Regions from separate parts of the Homo sapiens genome. Here region 1 is linked to region 2. Evidence: fine-mapped QTL for protein levels in blood plasma. Region 2 holds a variant in brackets. A gene starts in the other region. All regions are shown on their forward strands.

Region 1 (12,576 bases), not on the chromosome of region 2:
CCTTGCGTTGAGTGTGAGCACATACTTGTGAAGGCATGTAAGCCAGCCTTTCATACCTTCATACCCTTATTCCCTGCTGTTTTAGATAGCACATGCTTCAACTGCCCATCCCAGTTCTCTATTGAACCACTCCTCTGAAGATGAAAGTGTTTCTTGATCTGAAGAAATGTAACTCAGTGGTTCAAATTGGTGGAGTATCTTTTGTTCTGACCCTTTTACAGTGTCAGTATTTTGAGCATTTGCATCTACCACTGGCCATGCAAAGCCCAGTCCAGAATCAGTGTCTACTCTTGTCAGGACCCAGGTAGCCCTCCAGGCCTACCAGCATCAGTCCACCTTGCCAGGTATGTGCAGGGCCTTCCCTCCAAGGTCATCTTCCCACAGCCATGTGCGGTCTTTCTCTTTTTGGCAGACAGAAAAGTACTTACTGGCATTTTGTGCCTCAGCGGGAAAACAGGACTAAGTCTAAATTCAGCTCTTCTCTGCATGGCTGCTGCCCTGCAATGTCCATTTATTTCATGAACACACGTGGCCACCTCAGGTGAGCACGCAGGGATGTCTGCTTGTTGCCCCAGTTCCTTTTGATCCTGGAAAGGGGTCCTTCTGATGGACATCAACATAACCTGCTTTAATGCACTCCTAAAATTCCTGTTGTGATTTCCATATAGACAAGGTTCCCATTGTCCTTCCGCCTGACCATATGGCCAGGCCATTGGCCACTGTCCAAGAGTTAGTAAAAACCTAAACAGTATGCAATTCAACCCACAGAGCTGATTTGTTTTTGCCTTCTTTGATCAGAGTAACAACCTTCCAAACAATAGGCTGTTCATTCACCTTGGGACTGCCATCCATAAGCCAAACAGCTTTGTTGGTCAATCGAGAGCTGTCAATAGGGCACTGTCCAATTGGCAATAGAATCTAACAACTCTTTGAGTGGGTCCAAAGTCAGTCCTAGGGGAAAAGAGTCTCTCTGCTTTTGAATACACTGAGTAACTGCATTCCCCCAGGAGCTTGTTCCTGATCCAGCCATTTCCATTTCATTATGGAACTCTTCTGGGCCCTGCCCACTCTCTGTGAGCATTTCCCCAAGATATTATAGGTATTTCAGGTTTCAAGATTATCTTACATCCTTCAGTCATAGGGGCAATTTCAAATAATGTCTGATAGCAAGCTAATAATTACCTCTCACATGGAAATTATCTAGTCCAAAGTCTCAGCACTCGTGCCAGGAGGTGCTCTAAGACTTTTGCTATAAAGTCCAGTCTATGCTCCAGAGAAGGCTAACAATCTCTGTGGACTTGGGCAATCTTATTGGTTCCCATTTGGAATGTCTAATCAATATTGCTTGATGAGTGGATTTCCATACCTTCTGTTTTACAATACTAGGTAGTGGAAATATTTCCTGGTCAGATACAATATCCATCCCTGTAATACATTCAGGTAGAAGAGATGCAACCACTCCACATAAAACCTGTTCAAGCGCATACCACTTTTTTGTTTTGTTTTGTTTTGTTTTTGAGATGGAGTTTCGCTCTTGTTGCCCAAGCTGGAGTGCAATGGCGAGATCTCAGCTCACTGCAACCTCCACCTCCTGGGTTCAAGTGATTCTCCTGCCTCAGCCTCCTGAGTAGATGGGATTACAGGTGCGCACCACCACACCCGGCTAATTTTGTATTTTTAGTAGAGACAGGGTTTCTCCATGTTGGTCAGGCTGGTCTTGAACTCCTGATCTCAGATGATCCACCCACCTCTGCCTCCCAAAGTGCTGGGATTACAGGCGTGAGCCACTGCACCTGGCTGCATTTTTATATTCTCTCAATCTCATTGCAGTGCCCATCAGGACTTCAGCAGGTGTTTTTGGTACCACAGTGCAGGACTGGAGGTTGTAATTCCACTGACCAGAATCTAAGCATGGCCCATCTTTTACTTTCAGTTTGGCTATTAGAGATAAAAGTCTATAGGGATTGTATATTTGCTTTTCTTCTTCTTAGTATACATTTCCCTATGCACATGAGTCAACTCCCCAAAAGTTAGTGATCAATCACCTCTAATTTCCATTGGTAACTTTTACCTCCAGTAACTGATTGCAGCATGACTGCTCTTCACACCATGGGTGACCCTGTATCCACTCGAGAATGAAAGGTTTCTCATCCCCTGCCCTTTCAACTTTTCTTTTCCCAACCCATATGTTTCAGTGAGTCAGGGTCATTCTAGTAAATCCACATTTTCTGACACCAACTGCAATACTGCAATTTAATCCTGGCACTAACCATCGGGAGTTAGTGCAGAATCCACACTCAGGTTAAGGGCACGGTCCTGAGTGAGACGGCCTCACTTCTGACACCAGCCACAAGTTCAGGGGTCCCCAGGCCACCTGCACTTATTACCAAGTGGCTACAAATGTAGGGGTTCCCATAACCCTTTCAGATTTGATAATTTGCTAGAACAACTCACAGGACTCAGAAAAGCTTACGGTTATGCTTAGGGCTATAGTTTTATTATAAGAATACAAGCCAGGATCAGCCAAATGAAGGGGTGCATGGGGCAAGGTCTAGGGGGGCCCTGAATGTAGAGCTTCTGTGTCCTTTCCCCATGGAACCAGGACGTTTCCCCTCCTGGCTCATCAATGTGTTCACCAACCAGGACTTGGTATTTATTTGTTTTATTTGTTTGTTTGTTGAGACAGGGTCTCACTCTGTCACCTAGGCTGGAGTGCAGTGGTGCAATCTCAACTCACTGCAACCTCCACCTCCCAGGTCAATGATTCTCACGTCTTAGCCTCCTCAATAGCTGGGATTACAGGCATGCACCACCACACCCTGCTAATTTTTGGCATTTTTGGTAGAGACAGGGTTTCACCATGTTGGCCAGGCTGCTCTCAAATGCCTGGCCTCAAGTGATCCATCCACCTCGGCCTCCCAAAGTGTTGGGATTACAGGCATGAGCCACTGTGCCCAGCCTACTTACCAGGACTTTGAAGTCCAGAGTTTTTATTGGGGTTTCATGACATACGCATGATTGATTGAATCATTGATCATGTAATTGAACTCCATCTCCAGCCCCTTCTCCTCCCTGAAGGTTGAGAAGTTGGGCTGATATCATGTGGACCAAAACCCCAACCCTCTACACACATGCTTGGCCTTTCTGGCACGGCCTGCCTTCATGTGGAGTCGTCTTGTTAGCAGAAGCTGTCTAGGGACCCACCATAAGTCACCTCATTAACAAAAGCTACCAAGAGCCTGGGAAACATGGCAAAACCCCATCTCTACAAAAAATACAAAAATTAGCCAGGCATGGTGGCACACACCTAGTCCTAGCTATTCAGGAGGCCAAGGTGGGAGGATCACCTAAGCCCAGAGAGATTGAGGCTGCAGTGAGCCATGACTGCACCACTGCACTCCAGCCTGGGTGACAGAGTGAGACCCTGTCTCAAAAAGCAATCAGGCCAGGTGCAGTGACTCATGCCTGTAATCCCAGCACTTTGGGAGGCCAAGGTGGGTGGATTGCTTGAGGTCAGGAGTTTAAGACCAGCTGGCCAACATGGTGAAACCCCGTCTCTACTAAAAATACAAAAATTAGCCAGGCGTGGTGGTGCGTGCCTATAGTCCCAGCTACTTGGGAGGCTGAGGCAGGAGAATCACTTGAACCCTGGGGGCAGAGGTTGCATTGAGCCAAAATGCTCACCACTGCACTGCCAGCCTGGGCAACAGAGCTAGATTGCTGTCTCAAAAAAAAAAAGAAAGAAAAAAACAACAACAAAAAAACACTAATCAGGGACCACTATTAATAACAGACATTCCTATCACTTGGGAGATTCCAAGGAGCTTAGAGGTTACTTTGGAGGAACCCAAGACAAAAATGAAACTAATTCCTCATTATACAAGAAGTGGCTTATACATGAAAGGATTGACTCAGCAGGTCTGCTGTGTTCAAACCCTGCACATTTCAGAGAAAATTCTGGCCTGTGACCAGCCCTGAGAGATGAGATTTAAATTACCAAAATATGCTGCCTGATAAGTCTTTGTTTTTCTGGGGCCTTGGGCCATGCCAGATATTTGATGCTAATAATGTGATTTGTGGCAGGGGCCTTTGGCCGCCCAGTATCAGTTTGAACTCTGGAGAGTGAGTAACTGAGGTCAGCCACACAGGTAGTCCACGCTTTCATCACTGACCTCCAATAAAAACACTGGACACCAAGACTCAGGTGAGCTTTTGTGATTGGCAATACTTCATGCGTGCTGTCACATGTTATTGCTGGAAAAATCAAGTCCTGTCCATATAAATCCACTGGGAGAGGAAAAACTGGAAGATTGAGATTATTTTCTCCTGGACTTGGCCCTAGAATATTTCACCTTTGATGGCTTTAACATGTATCTTTTCACTGTAAGAAACCATAATCAAGGCTGGGCACGGTGGTTCATGCCTGTAATCCCAGCACTTTGGGAGGCTGAGGCAGGCGGATCACAAGGACAAGAGATTGAGACCATTCTTGCCAACATGGCAACACCTCTGTCTCTACTAAAAATACAAAAATTAGCTGGGCGTGGTGGCAGGTGCCTGTAGTCCCAGCTACTGGGGAGGCTGAGGCAGGAGAATCGCTTGAACCCAGAAGGTGGAGGTTGCAGCGAGCCGAGATTGCACCACTGCACTCCAACCTGGCGACAGAGCGAGACTCTGTCTCAAAAAAAGAAAAAAAATGAAACCATAATCATGGTATAACCATTTGGAAGTGTTAGTGAATCACTGGCCTGAGGTTGGTCTTAGGGAACACCAGTAAAGTCATCTTCCCCTACATTTGGCAAACAGCCTAATGCTTGACAAAGCACTGGACCACCCAGCCTCTCTGAAGTCCTCATTACAATTGCTCAGGACAAAACCTATTAATTATCCCAGGTACACTTTTCCCCTTTATATTCCACAATTGTCATGGGCAAGCACTGTCAACTCTCCCTGTAACACACACCCTCTATTGAACCCCTTGTCTCTGTCTCTAGTCTAACCACTGGAACCCAAGCCCAAACCTTGTTGCCTGGAGCCCCGCTCTCCCCGGACCTGTTCCCACTCTGCCCCAATCACACAGGCCTTCGTCCCAATCCCTGAACAGTGCGTCAGGGCCTCTGCATGGCCCTTTCCATGCCTGGACTGTCCTCTCCCAGATCAGCTCAGCAATGGTTCCTGCCACAATTCTGCTTACACATCACCTCCTCAGAGACACCGTCCCTCCCCATCCTCTCTAACACACCCTCTGCTCACCCACACCAGCGGGCCCTAACTTCTCTCTACTTCAAACTGTGCTTCTGTTACTGTTTTGCTTCTATTATTATTATTATTATTATTTGAGATAGAGTTTTGCTCTTGTTGCCCCGACTGGAGTGCAATGGCATGATCTTGGCTCACTGCAACCTCCACATCCCAAGTTCAAGCGACTCTCCTGCCTCAGCCTCCCGAGTAGCTGGGATTACAGGCGTGCGCCACCATGCCCGGCTAATTTTGTATTTTTCATAGAGATGGGGTTTCACCATGTTGGCCAGGCTGGTCTCGAACTCCTGACCTCAGATGATAGCTCCCACCTTGGCCTCCCAAAGTGCTGGGATTACAGGCATGAGCCACCGTGCCCAGCTGTTTTTCTTCTATTATTATTGTTCTTGCAGGAGCTGGTAAAGTGGCTGATGTGGCCACAGCTCCATAAATCCATGTGGAACGAAGGGTGGACATCGCCTGAGTCCAGGAGACAGGACAGGGTCACTCATCTCTGTCCCTGGTGATGGAAACTCAGGCTCAGGAAAGAGCCTTGACCTGCCCTGGGTCACAGAGAGAATATGAGGGTCAGGGCTCAAGCCCAAGTGCTGTCTTCAGGCCCTTAGGCTGCCTCTCACACCCAGACTAGGAAGCTGGAGCAGAAAGTTTGCTAGAACAATCCTGAGAAGAGGCCTGCACAGTTCAAGGGGCAGCTTGGAGGAGGAGAGGAAGGGAGGGCGGGCTCTGGCCAGCAGGCTCTTGGACCTCAGGCCAGGCTCTGGCAGCTGCGTCTGGTATCAGGACTGCAGGTCCCGACAGGGGGCGGTGGCTCACGCTTGTATTCCCAGCACAGTCGCCAAGCCTAATGTCCCTTCCAACGGTGGAAAATTTTGGTAAAAATCAATGACAGGCTGGGCGTGGTGGTGCATGCCTGTGATTCCAGCTACTCAGGAGGCTGAGGCACGAGAATCTCTCGAACCCGGGAGGTCTAGGCTGCAGTGAGTGGAGATGGTGCCACTGTACTCCATCTGGACGACCGAGCAAGACTCTAACAACAACAACAAAAAAAACGGACTGCAGGTGCAGTGCCCAGCACAGAGCCTGCTACATAGGAATTCTCATTTTCTTCTCTTCCCTACTCTTTCCTTCCTTTATAATCTCTTCCTTTCCCTCTGAAGTACCGACCCCAGAGCTTGAGATCTCATCCCAGCCTCCCTCTTATTGCCATCCTCCCCTGCTGCCTTCCCCACACCCCTACCTCTCACAGGGTGGGGGTAGGGCCTCCTGGGACCCCAGTCCCAGCCCCAGCAGCAGTAGCAGGCACAGCTCCCAGGTCCTCCCTGGCATGGTGGCTGTGACTGTGACTGAATGAGCAAGCCCAGGCACCTTCGGCTTGCTGGGCACAGCCTGGCTCACCTGCCTGTCCAAGTCGGCCAAAGTCCAGCCTTTGAGGCGTGGCCACCTGAGGGGACGTGTGCTTGGTCTGTGTGTGGCCCGCTTGCCCCTCCTGCTCTCAGGGCACAGTGGCCACCTCCCTTGCTTCTACTTTGCCTCTTCTATTTCACAGTCTCAGCTGGTGCCAATGGCTCAGGCCCTTCCCTCAGAGCATGGTGGTGGGGGTGGGGAGTGGGCACCCAAAGGCCAGGGACACAGTCGAGGCCACACACCTGTAACCTGGATGCCAGGTTCCTTGGGTGGCCCCAAGACCACCAACCTCAGAGAGTTACCATTTCCCTTAACATTTCAAATGGAATGGCTCAAGATCCTGTCCCTGGTGTGGTGTGAAATTCAGGGCCTCTCACTGTTATCTGCAAGAGATACAGCGGAAGCACAGGACAGTAGAACCATTCTGTCTGGGGAGGACTAAGGGAGACCCACAATAGTGTGTCATTTGTAATGAGTCTTTTTTTTTTTTTTTTTGAGACTGAGTCTCACTCTGTCGCTAGGCTGGAGTGCAGTGGCGTGATCTCAGCTCACTGCCACCTCCGCCTCCCGGGTTCAAGCAATTCTCCTGCCTCAGCATCCTGAATAGCTGGGACTACAGGTGCCCGCCACCACGCCCAGCTAATTTTTGTATTTTTAGTAGAGACGGGGTTTCACTGTGTTGGCCAGGATGGTCTCAATCTCTTGACCTCATGATCTGCTCGCCTTGGCCTCCCAAAGTGCTGGGATTACAGGCGTGAGCCACTGCGCCAGTCCTAATGAGTCTTGATGACCGCATAGGAGTTTGCCAAGGGAAATGGGCTGGAGACCACTACAATGTATGCAGAGCATGTGAAGAGAAGAGCAAACCCCTCAGCCTAGCTGCAGAGAACTTGGTGTTCATGCAGGGAAGGGTTTTGAGATAGACTGGAGGAACATGTTGGCACCAGTCTGGAAATGGTCTTTGCCAAGCCAAGGAATGTAATTCCTTGTAATTCCCCAAAGTGGAACCAGCAGAGAAGTTTGTGAGCTTAAGAAGCAGATTCAGGCTGGGTGCAGTGGCTCATGCCTGTAATCCCACCACTTTGGGAGGCCGAGGCGGGTGGATCACCTGAGGTCAGGAGTTCAAGACCAGCCTGGCCAACATGGTGAAACCCCGTCTCTACAAAAATACAAAAATTAGCTGGGCATGATGGCGGGTACCTGTAATCCCAGCTCCTCAGGAGGCTGAGGTGGGAGAATCGCTTGAACTCGGGAGACAGAGGTTGTAGTGAGCCGAGATCATGCCACTGCACTCCAGCCTGGGCGACAGAGTAAGTCTCTGTCTCAAAAAAAAAAAAAAAAAAAAAAAAGCAGATTCGGTTACTTTAGGAGGCTCATCCCCTCAACATATGGAAGGTGAGCTGAAGGGACAGGGGACAGGGGGTGGGCAAGGCACATGGAGTTTAATGATAGGCATGACCTCTCCTGAAGGACTTAGGTTTGCAGTTAAGGATGTCAGTTGTGGCACCTGAGCAGTGTTTACTGCTATTAAAAAGAAAAACCTTAGACAAATTAAATTTAACCATTTATTCAAGCAAAGAAATGACTCATGAATCAGGCACCACTCTGAACTAGTAAAGGTTCAGATAGCTCCACCCAGTAATGTGGGCAGCTGGCATTGTTTTTTTTGTTTGCTTTGTTTTTTGAGACAGGGTCTCGCTCTGTTGCCCAGGCTGGCATGCAGTGGCTCCATCACAGCTCACTGCAGCCTTGATCTCTCAGGTTTAAGGGATTCTCCCACCTCAGCCTCCTGAGCAGCTGGGACCACAGGCACATGCCACCACGCCCAACTAATTTTTAAATTAAAAATAATTTTTTTTTTTTTAGAGATTGGGTCTCCCTATGTTGTCCAGGCTGGTGTGGAACTCCTGAGCTCAAGCAATCCTCCTGCCTCATCCTCCCAATGTATTGGGATTACAGGTGTGAGCCACCATGCCTGGTCAACAATTTTTAAGTGTACAATTCAATTTCCTTTTATTACATTCACAATGCTGTGCAACCACCCTTGCATTCTTTGGATAAATCTCACTTGGTCATGATGTCTAATCCTTTTAATAAACTGTTGGTTTTGGCTTGCGAGTATTTTTTTGAGGAATTTTGCATCAATATGTATAGAGCATATTTGACTGTAATTTTCTTTCCTTGTTTTGTTTTGTTTTTTTTTTTTTTTGGACACATAGTCTTGCTCCATCACCCAGCAGGCTGGAATACAGTGGCATGAACACAGCTCACCACAACCTCGACTTCCTGGGGCTCAAGTGGTCATCTGGCCTCAACCTTCTGAGTAGCCAGGACTACAGGTGCATGCCACCACGCCTGGGTAATTTTTAAATTTTTTTGTAGAGACTACATCTGACTGTGTCGCCCAGGCTGGTCTTGAACTCCTGGCCTCAAGTGATCCTCCCGCCTTGGCCTCCCAAAGTGTTTCTCCCCAAGTGTGAGCCACCATGCCCAGCCCTCTTGTGATGTCTTTATCTGGTTTTAATATCAGGGTAATGTTAGCCTCATAGCATGAGTTAGGAAATATGCCCCTCTTCTATTTGTGGAAGTGTTTGAGAAGGATTGTTAATTCTTTAAATGTTTGGTAGAATTTACCAATGAAGCCATCTGGTCCTGGACCGTATTAGGCAGAAACAATACATATATGGGGGATGGGGGTAGAGAGAGAGAGTTTGAGAGGTAGCTGGCAAGTCCAAAATCTCTAGGGTAGGCTGGCAGGCTGGAGAAACAGGGAAGAAGCTGCAGTTCAAGTCTGAAGGCAGCATGCTGAGAGAATTCCTTCTTCTTCTGGGGAGGTCAGTCTTTTTCAAATTAAAGTCTTCAACTGATTGGATAAGGCCCATCCAAGTTAGGGAGGGTAACCTGCTTTACTCAAAGTCTACAAATTTAAATGTTATTTTCATCTAAAAAATATCTTCACAGAAACATCTAGAATAATGCTTGACCAACTATCTGGATACCTTTGCCTAGCCATGTTGACACATAAAATTAAACATCTTTTTTTTTTTTTTTGAGATGGAGTCTCGCTGTGTTGCCCAGGCTGGAGTGCAGTGGCATGATCTTGGCTCACTGCAACCTCTGCCTCCTAGGTTTAAGCGATTCTCCTGCCTCAGCCTCGTGAATAGCTGGGATTACAGGCGCCCACCACCACACCCAGCTACTTTTTGTATTTTTAGTAGAGATGGGTTTTCACCGTGTTAGCCAGGCTGGTCTCGAACTCCTGGCCTCAGGTGATCCACCCGCCTTGGCCTCCCAAAGTGCTAGGATTACAGGCATGAGCCAACGTGCCCAGCCAATGTTCTTTAAAAAAACACATGACTCTACAGTGATTGTACTAACTTACATTCTCACCAACAGTATATGAGGGTTCCTTTTCTCCACATCCTCACCAGCATTTGTTATTGCCTGTCTTTTGGATAAAAGCCATTTTAACCGTAGTGAGATAATATCTCATTGTAGTTCTGATTTGCATGTCTCTGATGATCAGTTATGTAGCGCACCTTTTCATATACCTGTTTGCGACTTGTATGTCTTCTTTTAAGCAAGGTTTATAGTGATTCAGATCTTCTGCCCATTATGCAGACTGGCTTTGTTCTGGGGGAACACCTCATTATATTGCGCAGGCTGGTCTCAAACTCCTGGGCTCAAGCAATCCTCCCACCTTGGCCTCTCAAAGTGCTAGGATTACAGGTATGAGCCACCATGCCCAGCCAGTAGTGTTTTTTTTTTTTTTTTTTGAGACGAAGTCTTGCTCTATCACCCAGGCTGGAGTGCAATGGCATGATCTTGGCTCACTGCAACCTCCGCCTCCTGGATTCGAGTGATTCTCCTGCCTCAGCCTCCTGAGTAACTGGGACTACAGGCGCCCACCACCACACCCGGCTAATTTTTGTATTTTTAGTAGAGATGGGGTTTCACCATATTGGCCAGGCTGTTCTTGAACTCCTGACCTCATGATCCACCCACCTCAGCCTCCCAAAGTTCTGGGATTACCGGCATGAGCCACCACGCCCGGCCTCCAGCAGTTCTTTTTTTAGTATTATATGTTTACAACTAACCAAGTCTACTCAAATAACACTACATTTCATGGTAGTGCAAGTACCTTATGATAACAAAGTAGTCTTAACTTCTCCCTCCTGTCCCTTCTATCATTGCTGTCATTCAGTTCCCTTATCCATAAACTAGAATCGTTGAATACACAGTTGCTATTACAGATTGAGCACCCCAAATCTGATAACCCAAAATCTGAAATGCTCCAAAATCCAAAACTTGTTGAGTACAGACATAATGATCAAAGGAAATGCTCACTGAAGCATTTCAGATTTTGGATGATCAGATTTGGGATTTTGAACCAGTAAGTATATTGCAAATATTTCAAAATTCAAAAAAAAAAAATCCAAAATCCAAAATTCTCCTGGTATCAAGCATTTTGGATAAATGCCCTGTTTTATTTTGAACAAACCATTATCTGTTAGATTAACTAAGGATAAGAAAAGTAAAAGCTTTTATTTTACCTTCACTTATTCCTTCTCTAAAGCTCTTCCCTTGTTTATGTAGTTCAAAGTTTCTAACTTATATCATCTTTCTTTTCTCTGAAGAAGTTTTTTTTTTTTTAAATACTTCTTGCAAGACAGGTCTACAGATTCTCTCAATTTTTGTTGGCTTGTGAAAGTTCTCATTTCTCCATCACTTTTTTTTTCCTTTTTTTCTTTTTCTTTTCTTTCTTTTCTTTTCTTTTTTTTTTTTTTTTTTTAAGACAGATTCTTGCTCTGTTGCCCAGGCTGGAGTGCAGTGGTGCTATCTCGGCTCACTGCAATCTCCGCCTCTCAGGTTCCAGTGATCCTCCAGCCTCAGCCCCCCAAAGTAGCTGGGACCACAGGCATGTGCCACCACTAAAGTTTGTATTTTTTTTGTAGAGACGGGGTTTCACCATGTTGCCTAGGCTGGTCCCAAACTCCTGAGCTCAAAGCCATCTGCCTGCCTCGGCCTCCCAAAGGGCTGGGATTACAGGCATGAGCCACTGTGCTGGCCTCTCCATCACTTTTGAAGGATGGTTTTGCAGGAAAGAGATTCTAGGGATTATAGGTTGGTGGGGTCTTCTTCTCTGTCAATGCTTTAAATATCTCACATGGCTCTCTTCTTCCTTGCATGGTTTCTAAGAAGTCTGGTGTTATTTTTATCCTTGGTCCTCCATAGGTAAGGTTTTTTTTACTCCTCTGCCCTCTTCCAAGACTTTTTATCTTTGAATTTCTGCAATTTGAATATAATATGCCTAGGTGTTGATTTTTTCTTCTTTTTGGGGGGCATCTGTCTTCCTTAGTATTTTCTGAGCTTCCTGGATCTGTGGTTTGGTGTCTGATACAAATTTGGGGAAATTCTCATTCATTATTGTTTCAAATGTATCTTCAGTTCCCTCTTTCTTGCTCTGTATTCCCATTAATGCATATGTGATGACTTTTGTCATTGTCCCACAGTTTTGGATATTCTGTTCTGTCTGTTTCAGTCTTGCCTCTCTTTGCTTTTGAGTTTTGGAAGTTTCTATTGACATATCCTCAAGTTCATGGATTCTTTCCTCAGCTTTGTCCAGTCTACTAAAGAGCTGATCAAAGGCACTTCCTTTGTGTTTTTTTCTCCTCATTGTACTTCTTCTTTGTTTTTTTCTTAGAATTTTCATCCCTCTGCTTAAATTACTTATCTGTTCTTGCATGTTGTCTACTTTTTCCATGAGCACCCTTGGCATGTTAATCATAGTTGTTTCAAATTTCCGGCCTGATAATTCCAACATCCCCGCTATAGTTGAGTCTGGTTCTGTTACTCGCTCTGTCGCTTCAAGTGGTATTTTCTGCCTTTTAGTAAGACTTCTAGTTTTTTCTT
Region 2 (12,576 bases):
GGTCTACAGGGCTTCCGAGGCGATCAGGCAGCATCAGTCTTCAGCCGCAAAGCGAAGAAGGAATCAGTCAGAGAGCCTTGGGCCAGAGTTCCAGGGGCTCTGGGAGTGGCTGCCAGGTGAGTTGAACAGTCCGATTTCCAGTGTGGTCCCGCACAGATGGGACATGGCTTAGGAGGAATCCTGGGCTGCAGGCATTCCTTGGCCTGGTGGTCAGATTTCTGGCACTTGTAGGAAGCTCCTGGGGGAGGAGGTTCTGGAGGAATGCCTGGCTGCTGCAGTTCAGGCGTTTGGAAGTTCTTGTGTGCTGGAGATGTGGCTGGGGTTTGTCTTACAGTGGAGGCAAGGAATTGCAACTTTTTTTTTATTATTGTACACCTTGAAGGTGAGGTTAATTAAGTCCTGTTGCGGGGTTTGAGGGCCAGATTCTAATTTTTGGAGTTTTATTTAATGTCGGGAGCAGATTGGGTAATAAAATGTATATTGAGAATAAGACGGCCTTTTGACCTTTTAGGGTCTAGGGCTGTAAAGCGTCTCAGGGTTGCTGCCGAATAAGCCATGAACTGGGCTGGGTTTTTATATTTGATAAAAAAAAGAGCCTAAAAGCTTCTGATTTGGGATAAAGAAAAAGGAGCCTTAACCTTGACTATGCCTTTGGCTCCAGCCACCTTTTTAAGAGTAAATTGCTGGGCAAGTGAGGGAGGGCTAGTCACAGAACGAAACTGTAAGCCAGACCAGGTGTGAGGAGGGGAGGCGATAAAAAGATTACAGGGTGGAGGAGCGGAGGCTGAGGAAGAATTGGGACCTAGCTTGGCCTGGCGAGGAAGGGAGAGGTCAGATGGGTCTGTAGAAAAGGAAGATTAAAAAGACTCAGCGACGCTTGGGGTTGGGACTGAGGGGACAGACGGGAGGGAAAGAAGGAAGATTTGGGACGAGTTGCACTGGGCACAGAGACTAGGAAGGGACTGATGTGTAAAAGAAAGCCTGAACGTCAGGCACCTCAGACCATTTGCCCATTTTATGACAAGAATTATTTAGATCTTGTAGGATGGAAAAATTGAAAGTGCCATTTTCCGGCTATTTGGAACTACTGTTGAGTTTGTATTGGGGTCGAGCGGCATTGCAGAAGAAAATAAGACGCTTAGATTTTAGGTCAGGTGAGAATTGAAGAGGTTTTAAGTTTTTGAGAACACAGGCTATGGGAGAAGAAGGAGGAATGGAAGGTGGAAGCTTGCCTATAGTGAAGGAGGCAAGCCCAGAGAAAAGAGTAGAGACACGGAGAAGGGGTAGGGGTTTCTTGCCCTCCAGAAAAGCAGAGAAAGGGTTGGGGCATGGAAATAAGGAATTGGGGCACAGAGATAAGAGGTTGGGGTGTGGAAATAAGGGATTGGGCGTTCTTGCTCCCTAGAAAAGCGGGACTTGCCACTAAGGGTGAAGGAGAGGGGGTTGAGGGGTACTTGCCCCTCCCCCAGAAAAGCAGAGAAGGGGTAGAGACAAGGAGAGAAGCGGGACTTGCGGCTAAGGGTGAAGGACCAAGGCAGGTGTCCCTGCGTGGTCTGACACCTTTGAAACATGGGTGAATAATCAGAGAGGCTTCCCTGCAATGATTAAACACCAAGGGAAGGCTGCCTTCCCAGTCCGTGACCGGCGCCGGAGTTTTGGGTCCACGGATAAAACGTGTCTCCTTTGTCTCTACCAGAAAATGAAAGGAATTGAAATTAAGAGAAGGGAGAGATTGAAGTGTGGCGCCAAGATTGAGAGGAGAAACAGGTTGAGGGATAGTGAGGGAAGCTGGAGAAGAGAGTAAAAAGAGGCCTCTTACCGGATTTGAAATTGGTGAGATGTTTCTTGGGCTGGTCGGTCTGAGGACCTGAGGTCGTAGGTGGATCTTTCTCATGGAGCAAAGAGCAGGAGGACAGGGGATTTATCTCCCAAGGGAGGTCCCCCGATCCGAGTCACGGCACCAAATTTCATGCGCATCCGTGGGAAGAGACCACCAAACAGGCTTTGTGTGAGCAACATGGCTGTTTATTTCACCTGGGTGCAGGTGGGCTGAGTCCGAAAAGAGAGTCAGCAAAGGGAGATAAGGGTGGGGCCGTTTTATAGGATTTAGGAAGGTAATGGAAAATTACAGTCAAAGGGGGTTGTTCTCTGGTGGGCAGGGGCGGGGGTCACAAGGTGCTCAGTGGGGGAGCTTCTGAGCCAGGAGAAGGAAATTCACAGGGTTAATCCCTCAGTTAAGGTGGGGCAGGAACAAATCACAATGGTGGAATGTCATCAGTTAAGGCAGGGCAGGGCCTTTTCACTTCTTTTGTGGATCTTCAGTTACTTCAGGCCATCTGGATGTATACATGCAAGTCACAGGGGATGCGATGGCTTGGCTTGGGTTCAGAGGCCTGACAGAGACCATGTGGTTTTTTTCACTTTGGGAAAATTTATCACACTATACACTTATGATCTGAATACGTTGCTGTATGGTTGTGTTTACTTAAAACGGACACATAAATAAAAGGTATGCTGGGCTGGATGCTCTCACAGGGAAAGGCAGCACAGAATAACAACGTTATCTGTTGAGTGTTTACCATGTACCAGGCTCTGATAGAAGATTTGTGGATACATTATCTCATTTAATTCTCACAACATTATTAGAATCCTATTATTATCCCCAGTTTACTGATGAAAAAACTGTAATACAGTCAGCTAAGTTAACTTTTCCGAGGTCCATGCAGGTAGTAAGTGATAGAGACAGGTCACAAAACACAGACTTTCGAATACACAGCACATGCTCTGTACCACTGAGCTACAGAAAATGACGTGTTCTGTCTGGACTAGTGCGTCTGAGGGTGAGTTCTTCGTTTTCCTGGAGCCTCAGTTTCCTCTCTGCTTCTTTCAGCTCTCACATTATAGTTTAATCTGAATTGACTAACAGGTTCATGCATCTCTTTATTTCTCTTCCTCCCTGTGGCCTTCCCCTCAAAAAAGGACTCTTGTTATAGCCGAGTGAGATGTTAGCATACAAATAGAACTTTAGTCTGAAGTCCAATTGCAGAACCATTTTTTGTTCTTCCTTTCCAGGTTGGTGGAGTACTACCTGTGCAGAGCTGTCTGAATCTGTTCTAGGGCTACCTTGCATTTGCTATTGTTTAATACAATCCTATCAACCTTGAAGTCATCATTGGTGCAGGCCCCACCCATACAGGCACTAGTTTCTCTAAAAGAGGCACTCCTGTGCTGCAGCCCTGCTCATTTGAATGAGATTTTACCTGGATAATGCAAAAGGCATTTTGAGGAATGCATCCCAGCATTTGAGGCAACTCCCAGCAGAACAACCTGCCATTTGTGATGCCTTCTTCAGGTTAAACATTTTAGATTAATCAATAAGTAAATGGCAAATAAATGGCATGAGCCCCATGTTCAATATAAATGAGATCAACTGAAGAAGCAGAAAAGGGCACTTTTGGCACCATCCAACACGCCTTAGGAAGTGCTGCCTTCTCTGCCTACTTTGGGTGAATATCCAGAGATGTTTTAGAACGTCAGAGTGTCTGGTGCCTTTTGTTTTAACACATGGATTTCATTTTGGGGTGCTATTGTCCTGAATCTCTGTCACCCAGTAGAAAGGTCATGACTCTGGCAAAATGTTCTCCCTCCTCCAATATAAATCTAAGCAACCAGCCCCAGAATAATACAGTGGCACAAAAATGCCGAGACCAGAGCAGGAACATTGCTGCCTTGGAGAATTTGCCAAACACTACCCCAAATAAGCTTTTCATAAGGAATCCCATTTATTTCTCCCAATACTTGCTGCTAATTTACTTCAGTTACACTTTTCGGGTGTGTAATATCTCATTTTTGAGAAAAATATGTTGCAGCCAAAAGAGCTGACCTTGGTGTGTTTTCAGACTATCTGCTGTGTACCTGACAAATGAGGCACCAAAGCCCTTCCATATTCTGTTTGGGGGGCTATTGGCTGAGGAATCCTTGGTCATCCCACCTGCCTGGCATCTAGGATCATGATGAATTGTCTCCAACTCTAGCCTCAGATTGTTTTTTAACATTTAATTTAGTTTCTTCCTGTGCTTGGATGAACATGGCCATGTTATGGATTTCTGCTCTAATGTACACCAGCAGGCTGGAAGAACAAGCCTCAGCAAGCTGTGGAAATTAGAGAGACTGGATCAATAGGCAAGGTCACGACCCCCCAGCTCTGATTCTGTACACTGTCCTGAAATTCTCTCCCCTGGAAATCCTCCTGCTGCTTCGAATGTGAATCCGTGTGCATTCCCAGAGAGGAATTCATGTAAACAAGCCTACCCCAAACCCCTCACATCTCAGAGAGCAACACCCATAATCACAAACACTAAAAAAATTTGTATAAACCACAACCTAGGAATATAAACATCTAGGCATTTGCTTTAGGTGCAGTTTGTGAACTCCATTGTTTAAAAGACCCTTTCAGAGGGAGGGAAAATAGATGAGGACAAAGAGACAGACGACCTGCCAATTCCAAAGTACACCTCTAAGAAATAATCCTGTGTCACACACACACCTCAAACAAAAGGATAGACTCTTCTGTCCCTATGTCTTGAAATTTTTATGAGACACAAAATTGGTAAAATCAACCTGATTTCAACTCTAAGAAATACCTCTGGGCTCAATAAGACAGATTAAGGAGAACACATTTGAAAATATTTTAAAAGATAGCAGGTGACTTTTAGATCTTGTCAGTACGAAGAACCTACATTTCCAAACACTGGACAATATCCTTAACAAACCAGCTTTCTATCTGGAGATGTACAAGTTGATGTTGTTCAGAGTTATAATTTTCCTGGGTGGAAATAACTAATGCGTCAAAACTTCAAACCTGCTAAAGCAAACCTGCTAGCGGTAATTTATCATATTCACTAATCACTGGTTCCAAAATGACCTGACATCAAAATGATCAATTTAGTGGGGGGAAAAAGGCATCTTAAAGATCTGTCTTTGGGAAGAAGGTTAAGGATGTGCAAAACAATGGGAGAAAATGAAGGAGATTTGGGTCGAGGGGAGGAGGAGGAGGCTCCAAGAGCCCCTTTTCATCTGGAATCTGGGTGCCACCTTCATGTGTAAATCTGAAGCCACGTGGCCCAGGAAAGTGGGATTTCTTTTATTCGAAAAGTAAGTTCAGTATATGATAATCCGCATCTTTATCTAAACCCCTTATTCAGGAACAACAGCGAAAGAACTTTCTAGAGTCCAGTATTTCTATGACATTTGATAGTTTTGCTCCATAATTTAGATCACTGGGCTATATTTGAGGATGTAGGGGGTGATTCTCTGTTGCATTTTTGACAAACCACTTAGCCAATCCCTTGTCTTCATACTACTGCATATCAGAAATTTTAAGTGAAACAACATCACACTTTAAATCTCCAGATGGAAAATTAGTTTGTTAAGAATACTGCTTTGTGCTTGGAAGAAGGTTGTTACTGGCAAAGGATATTATTTGCAAGAATTCTGGGCTGGGCGTGATGGCTCATGCCTGTAATCCGAGCACTTTGGGAGGCTGAGGCGGGCGGATCATGAGGTCAGGAGCTCAAGACCAGCCTGGCCAACATGGTAAAACTCAATCTCTATAAAGAAAAAAAAAAAAAAATTAGCCGGGTGTGGTGGCTTGCACCTGTAATCCCAGCTACTCAGGAGGCTGAGGCAGGAGAATCGCTTGAGCCCCAGAGGTGGAGGTTGCAGTGAGCCAAGATCACGCCATTGCACTCCAGCCTGGGTGACAGGGCAAGACACTGTCTCAAAAAAAAAAAAAAAAAAAAAAAAAAAAGAATTCTGGAAAGTTAGGGTGCTTTTTGGCAGCCCAGAAAGTAATTGTAAAGAAGTGTAAATCTTGTGCTTTGACAGTACTTTATTTTGACAGGAAAATACACACACAACCCCCTATTTGTTTTTAGGTACTGCAAGAATCACATTTGCTCTGGTCCAACAGAAATAGCCGCAGTGAAAGATCTAGATATGAACAGGGATTGGTGAGGATTAATGAGGGAGTGATTTAGAAGATATAAAAAGGCAAATGATAAAGATTTTTCTCCTGCTGAGTGAAGGCTTTCAGTTTGGAAATACACCTCACTTTTGATCACAATGGCAAGTCACAATGAGTATCTGGATGCATAAATGGCTGTTCAGAATCATAAAGTCTAGAGCAGGAGCTAACCTATTATCCAGTGTTTTCCTCTAGATGAATAAGGTTATGATCTCAGTTTTTCAGCACCTAAGATCCTGAGACATTTATACACCCTGTCCAAGGCCTACCTACCAGGAATACACAATTGACTGGAGCTCTGCATTGCTGTCTATTGATACAGGGCTTTACCTTCATATAAGGCTATGTCCTCATTACAGGGTTCTCCTGTAATACCGACCTCCAACCCCTGATGCAGGGCTCTATCCCTCATACAGAGTTTTA[C/T]CACAATGAAGGGTTCTGCTCCAATACAGGTCTTTATTCTAATACAATAGGGCTCTGTTCCTACTGTGGGGGCTCTGATCTCTCATGCAGGAATTTATTTCTGTTCTTGTGATTTAATGTCACGTAACAAGTTGCCCCGAAAATTAGTGGCTTAAAACACTAACAGCATGTATTTGTTCATAAATTACAGTTTGGACTAAGCTTCAGGTAGATAGCTTATCTCTGCACCATGTGGCATCAGCAGGGGCATCTTGAATCATCTGGAGGCTGCTGTATTCACAGATCTGGTGGCTGATGCAAGACATTGGCTGAGGCCTCAGTTCCTCTCCGTAGGGGCCTCTCCATGTGTTCTCTCCACCTGGTGATTCAGACTTCTTCACAACATGATGGCAGGCTTTGTTGGAGTACAGCAAGCATCCCAAAAACGTCTAGCCTTGGAAGTCACATAGCATCCCTTTTGCCTTAATTTATCAGTTGATTCCCAAGCCGCTGCCCAGATTCAAGGGGAGAGAACATAGACCTCACCTCTCAGTGGGAGGAGCCTCTATTTCACATTGTAGGATGAGCAAATGGAAAAGGAGATGTTGTTGCATTCAAGACAATACAATCTGCTATAATTTACCTTCTGGCCACAGCAATTCAAATCCCTCCTATGTGCTAAATATATTCATGCCCCCGCTTCAAGGCCTCAAGTCTCATTCCCCTGAACCATCAGCTTAAGGTCCAGGATCTCATCATCTAAATCAGGTCCTGATGACGTGGAGGACCCTTGGCTTCAGATCCTGGAGCACTGGTCTTTTTGATATGAAGCCCCGTGAACTAAATAGACAAGGATCCACATGGATAGCTCATGTCTGCTCCACTTGGTATCAGATAGGGTAGCTCCCAGGCTGGGGGCTGGAAGCATCTGGAGTATCCCTTACTCGCACATCTATAGCTGGTGCTGGATCTTGGCTAGGAGCCCCAGTTTTTCTCTAGGTGGACCCTTCCATATGTTCTCTTTGTGTAGTAAATTTGGGCTTCCTTACAGCACACTGGCTGGCTTCCCTAGAACAAACATTCTAAAGAGTGAGCCAGCTGGACGCTGTGGTCTTTTTATGAGCTGGCTTCAGAAGATACACAGCATCACTCTCCTGCACTCCATTGGTTAAAGGCTTCCTAAGCTCTGTCAAGATACAAGTGGAGAAGCCCTAAGCTTTACTCTCAATGAGAAAGTCTCAAAGTCACATTGTAAGAAGAGCAAGTGGGATGGAAAAATATTGTAGTCATTTAGGAAAATGTAATCTGCTAGAATGGGCTGCCTTGCAAAACAGTGAACTCCTTTCTACTGGGGTCATTCACAGTGAGGCTGAATGACTAGCAGTCAGGAATGCTGCAGAGGGGATTCCTAATATGAAGAGAAATTTTGACTAAATGACTTCCGAGGTCTCTTGCATCTCTCAGATTCTATGAGGCTATAGAAAGGACAATGGAACCCAGGTACTCTGAAGATTTTAGGGAGCTGAATTATATAGGCCTGTGGCATATAAGAAAAAGCCCAGGCAAAAAAGGACATATGGATAAATTGAAGGTGCTAAGGATGCAGCCCTAGGATAGCCTGTGTCTGAACACTATGACCTTGTCTGCTAACAAGAGCAGATGGCCATGACCCTGGACAGCTCAGGCTGGCAAGAAAGGTGGCAGCTCATATAGTTTATATTGACTTAAAACCAGATGAACCTGCTGCCCAGGAAGAAAAGGGGTTGTTTCCTCTGCTGAGCCAGAATGTAGACAGATACAAAAATCCATGAACTTTTGGGCCAATAAGAGGGAGATGGGACTGTGTGCATGTGTGAGGGCTTTATAAGCCGCGAAGTGATGTGTCAATGTTGTTTATTGTGTCAGGACTTCCATTCATGTAGCAGAGACTTTTGTAAACAAAGCTGAACCCTCTCTTGTGCTCTGTCCCATACGTGGATTTCTTACATTTGGTCAAATCATCTTTCCATGAAGGGGCTTGTCTGTGTCCATTTCCTGTGAGACTCTTGCTTAACATTCTGAGTCAATCAATCAATGTGGTTACAATATTGGCCTCGGACCAGTGACAGGGGCTGTGTTGGTGGACACAGCCTCAGAGTGTGCCTCTCTAAACCTGCTGGCCATCTCTTATCATGTCTTCTTGTCATCAGTTTTTCAAAACCAGGCACTTTTTCTGCTGCGCTCCACCAGGCTGGCTTCCAACAGTACCTTGCTCTGGGGCAGAATTGTACTGGCAAATGCATAATTCAGTGGTTTGTACTTTGCATCTATTAACCATGGCACCAAATGCAGGAATGACACAATGGTGAGGCTTTTGCTTAGACAGTGTTTTTCCTGAGTGAAGCTTAACATTCAAACCAATTTATAATTCCTTTGCATAGTAGATAAGTATCATAATAGTCTTTTAATAGATGACTCGATGGAAACACATATATTATAAGGTCAATGTCACTGCAAATTATTACAAGAGGTACAATTCAAGGGTCCTAACTGTTCGTATCTAACATTTACTTCTAGATTATGCATAGTACATAGTAGGTTTTTAAAAATATCCATTGAGCTTTATTATATTATCAATAGTCAATTAAATAAAATGCAGCTTCAAGGCTTTTTTTAAAACCAAAGACTGACTTAAGATAGACACATTCAACTGGTTTGAAAATCTCTAGCTGAAAAATAACCATTATGTTTCTACTAGATAAATGATGGCAGCCGGATTAAGTCTCAACTAACTAAATATCATATTTACTTGCCTTTATGCAAGTCGTGAAAGCAGAAATAGAGCTGTGGTGGTAACTTTTTATTTATTTTCCCTATCTTATACTTACATATCTTTTACAAAGTCCAAATATTCATAATTCTATTCATTCACAGAATGTCTAGGAGAATCTGTTAGTACAGATACTGTTATTCCTGTTTCAAAGACAGAAGTCAAAAGGTTAGAAGTGATTTATTTATTTTTGCTATGCTTTTTTTTTTTTTTAAGTTCCAGAATACATGTGCAGAACCTGTAGATTTGTTACATAGGTATACATGAGCCATGGTGGTTTGCTGCACCTATCTACCCATAACCTAGGTTTTAAGCCCCACATGCATTAGCTATTTGTCCTGATGCTGTCTCTTCCCTCACCCCCCGACCCCATGACAGGTCGCCATATGTGTTGTTGCCCTCCCTGTGTCCATGTGTTCTCATTGCTCAACTCCCACTTATGAGTGAGAACATGCAGTGTTTGGTTTTCTGTTCCTGTGTTAATTTGCTGAAGATGATGGTTTCCAGATTCATCTGTGTCCCCACAAAGGACATGATCTCATTCCTTTTTGTACCTGCATAGTATTCCATGGTGTATATGGACTACATTTTCTTTATCCAGTCTATCATTGATGGGCATTGGGTTGGTTCCATGTCTTTGCTATCGTGAATAGTGCTGCAATGAACATACGTGTGCATGTATCTTTATAGTAGAATGACTTATATTTTGGTATATACCCAGTAATGGGATTGCTGGATCAAGTGGTGTTTCTGGTTCTGGATCCTTGAGGAATAGCCACACTGTCTTCCACAATGGTTGAACTAATTTATAGTCCCACCAACAGTGTAAAAGCGTTCCTGTTTCTCCACAGCCTCACCAGTGTCTGTTGTTTCTTGACATTTTAATAATCACCATTCTGACTGGCATGAGATGGTATCTCATTGTGGTTTTGGTTTGCATTTCTCTAATGATCAGTGATGTTGAGCTATTTTTCATATATTTGTTGGCCACATAAATGTCTTCTTTTGAAAAGTGTCTGTTCATATCCTTTGCCCACTTTTTGACAGAGTTGTTTTTTTCTTGTAATTTGTTTAAGTTGGTTATAAATTCTGGATATTAGACCTTTGTCAGATGGGTAGACTGCAAAAATTTTCTCCCATTCTGTAGGTTGCCTGTTAGCTCTGATGATAGTTTCTTTTGCTGTGCAGAAGCTCTTTAGTTTAATTAGATCCCATTTGTCAATTTTAGCTTTTGTTGCAATTGCTTTTGGTGATTTCGTCATAAAATCTTTGCCCATGCCTATGTCCTGAATGGTATTGCCTAGGTTTTCCTCTAGGGATTTTATGATTTGGGGAGTGATTTATTTTAAAATAGAGCATACATTCACCCATTCTCTGGTTCAATTTTCTTTCTATTGCATTGTAATATTAGCTAATAAATGATTCTCATTATAACAAATAATTAGCCAGTAAAATTATTATTATTATTTATTGAACAACAATTGTATTCTGTGCCCTGTGCTAAGTACTTTACCTACATTATTTAATTTAATCCTCACAACCACTTTTGAAGGAGACACTATTATTAGTGTCATTTGATAGATGAATCACCTTAGGCTTACAGAGCTTGAGTAACTTGTGTCAATGTGATAAAACCTTTTTTAAGAAAAAAAAAGATGGACTCTGAAACCATGCAAAAGTGCTTAACCACAATGCAGTACTGCTTCTTATGGCAGATATCATGGAGAAAGCTGAAGATGATGGGAAAGAGAATGGGTGAAAGAAATAGGTATGTATGGACATTAATTTTTTTCCAAAGTAACAATTTACATTTCAAAAATTATGATTTCACCATTGTATGAAAGCAACTCTTGCTCCTGTAAAATTAAAGCTTTCCCCTCCTCCCCATTGCATTGTTACAGACTGGTTGGTGTTCAAGTAGGAAGGAATGTGTTCTGGAGTGGATTTATATTTTATAAGATGGAATACGCCATTTTCATGCCCCATTCACTCAGTACTGTTCTCTATCTGTATCCTGGTAACACCTAAGTGTTTGTCCATTCAAGGATATCATCCAACTTGGGCAGGCCAACCTGTGTAAACCACACTTTCCAGCTGCCTGGTTATCATTACTAATGTATCAAAATCTTTTCTGGGAGCTTCTGTGCATCTTTCCACCCAGTGAACCATGATTTTCTTATTCAAAGTCTCATCTGCCCGGAAATCAGGCTTCTCAGTTAATATGACTGTTCTCCTCTGCCTTGTACTAGCCCTGCAGGCTTCACATCAGCCCTGCTCACTGATGCCAAAGACAGTTATGGGACTTTTGATTCAGAAAGTTTCCTTAATATCTCTTTCATGCTCATCTTCTTTAACAAGCAAAAATTGGGGGAAACATCAAATGAGACCAGGAACTTAACTCATTCTGACCCGGAGATGTCAGATTATAAGTAAAATTTCTTGATCCAAATGTCAAATTGAGCAGAGCAAAACCAGGTTTCTGAGTTTCACCATTATGACACTCATCCCCCTGAACCTCCTAGCACAGTGCTAAGGACGGTATGATGAGTGATTTCCTAAGAGGCTAAATATTATATTGGAATCAACATTGCTGCTCGTTTGCACAACAAACCGATGGCCAAAATATCCTTCTACATTTCCTCTCTCAAGTTAAAACCATAACCTAGGTCTAGATGCTTCCATTTGTTTTCTTCTTTCTTATATTTAAAATTTGTCTCCTCTTCAAGCTATTAGGCTTTTTGACTAATGAGAAGACAGGCTGAAAATTCTCCTTGTAGCTCACCTAGACTGGAAGGTCCATGGCTTCTAACCACTTGCTTTATCATACGAACAGCTTTAAGAGTGTGGACTATGGGAAACTAATGCCACCATCTTCAAGAAAACTAAAGTTTTGTATTGCCTATGATCCTTAATTATGTGCCATAGCAATTTTCGTCAAGGTTTGTAATGACCTTCTTCTGGCTAAATCCAGTCATCTGGCCTTCAGTCTCTGTCTCCTCTCTTTGTGGCTCTTAATGCTGAAGACCATTCATTTGAATCTTTTGATGAAACTTTCCCCAATAAATAATTGATTCCCCCATGTTTCTCTCTCCTGGTTCTCCCCGATTTCTTCGATTCTTTTCCTTCATCTAGGCCCTCAGTCCTTGAATATCAGCTCTTATTTCTCCAAAATCTCACTATATGGGTATTTAGCCTGTCATGGGTTTCAATACTATCATTATAAGGATGACTTTCAATTCTAACTCACCAGCTCAGTCCTGTATCCCTTATTCTGCCTTTTTTAAAGGTTAGCATATACTAAATCTAACCCATCATTTTCTCCTGAAATACATTTTTCTGT

Alleles and levels. Positions count from the first base shown, and alleles are read on the strand shown. Strength reflects both the effect of a copy and how common the allele is.
In carriers of allele C in region 2, the plasma level of the protein whose gene starts at base 6,608 in region 1 tends to be higher than with T alone (weak association).

What was found. A credible set is the group of variants that fine-mapping cannot tell apart. PIP is the chance, under the fine-mapping model, that this variant and not a neighbour inherited with it causes the effect. The UK Biobank Pharma Proteomics Project read protein levels with antibody pairs (Olink). The fine-mapping took linkage between variants from a reference panel, not from the people measured, so its PIPs are less certain.
Region 1: TREH starts here. The variant in region 2 is the best candidate, but not a certain one, in a credible set for the plasma level of the TREH protein (UK Biobank, PIP 0.71).

Annotation. Positions count from the first base shown.
Region 1 is chr11:118,673,043-118,685,618 of GRCh38, forward strand. TREH (trehalase) reads right to left here and starts at 6,608. Exons shown (of 15, transcript NM_007180.3): 1 at 6,497-6,608. The coding sequence starts at 6,585. RefSeq lists enhancers at 5,838-6,499, 6,500-7,159.
Region 2 is chr15:53,430,065-53,442,640 of GRCh38, forward strand. No RefSeq gene overlaps it. Among named protein-coding and RNA genes, the nearest start is that of LINC02490, 320 kb to the left of the region's middle. The variant C/T (reference allele first, on the strand shown) is at 6,449.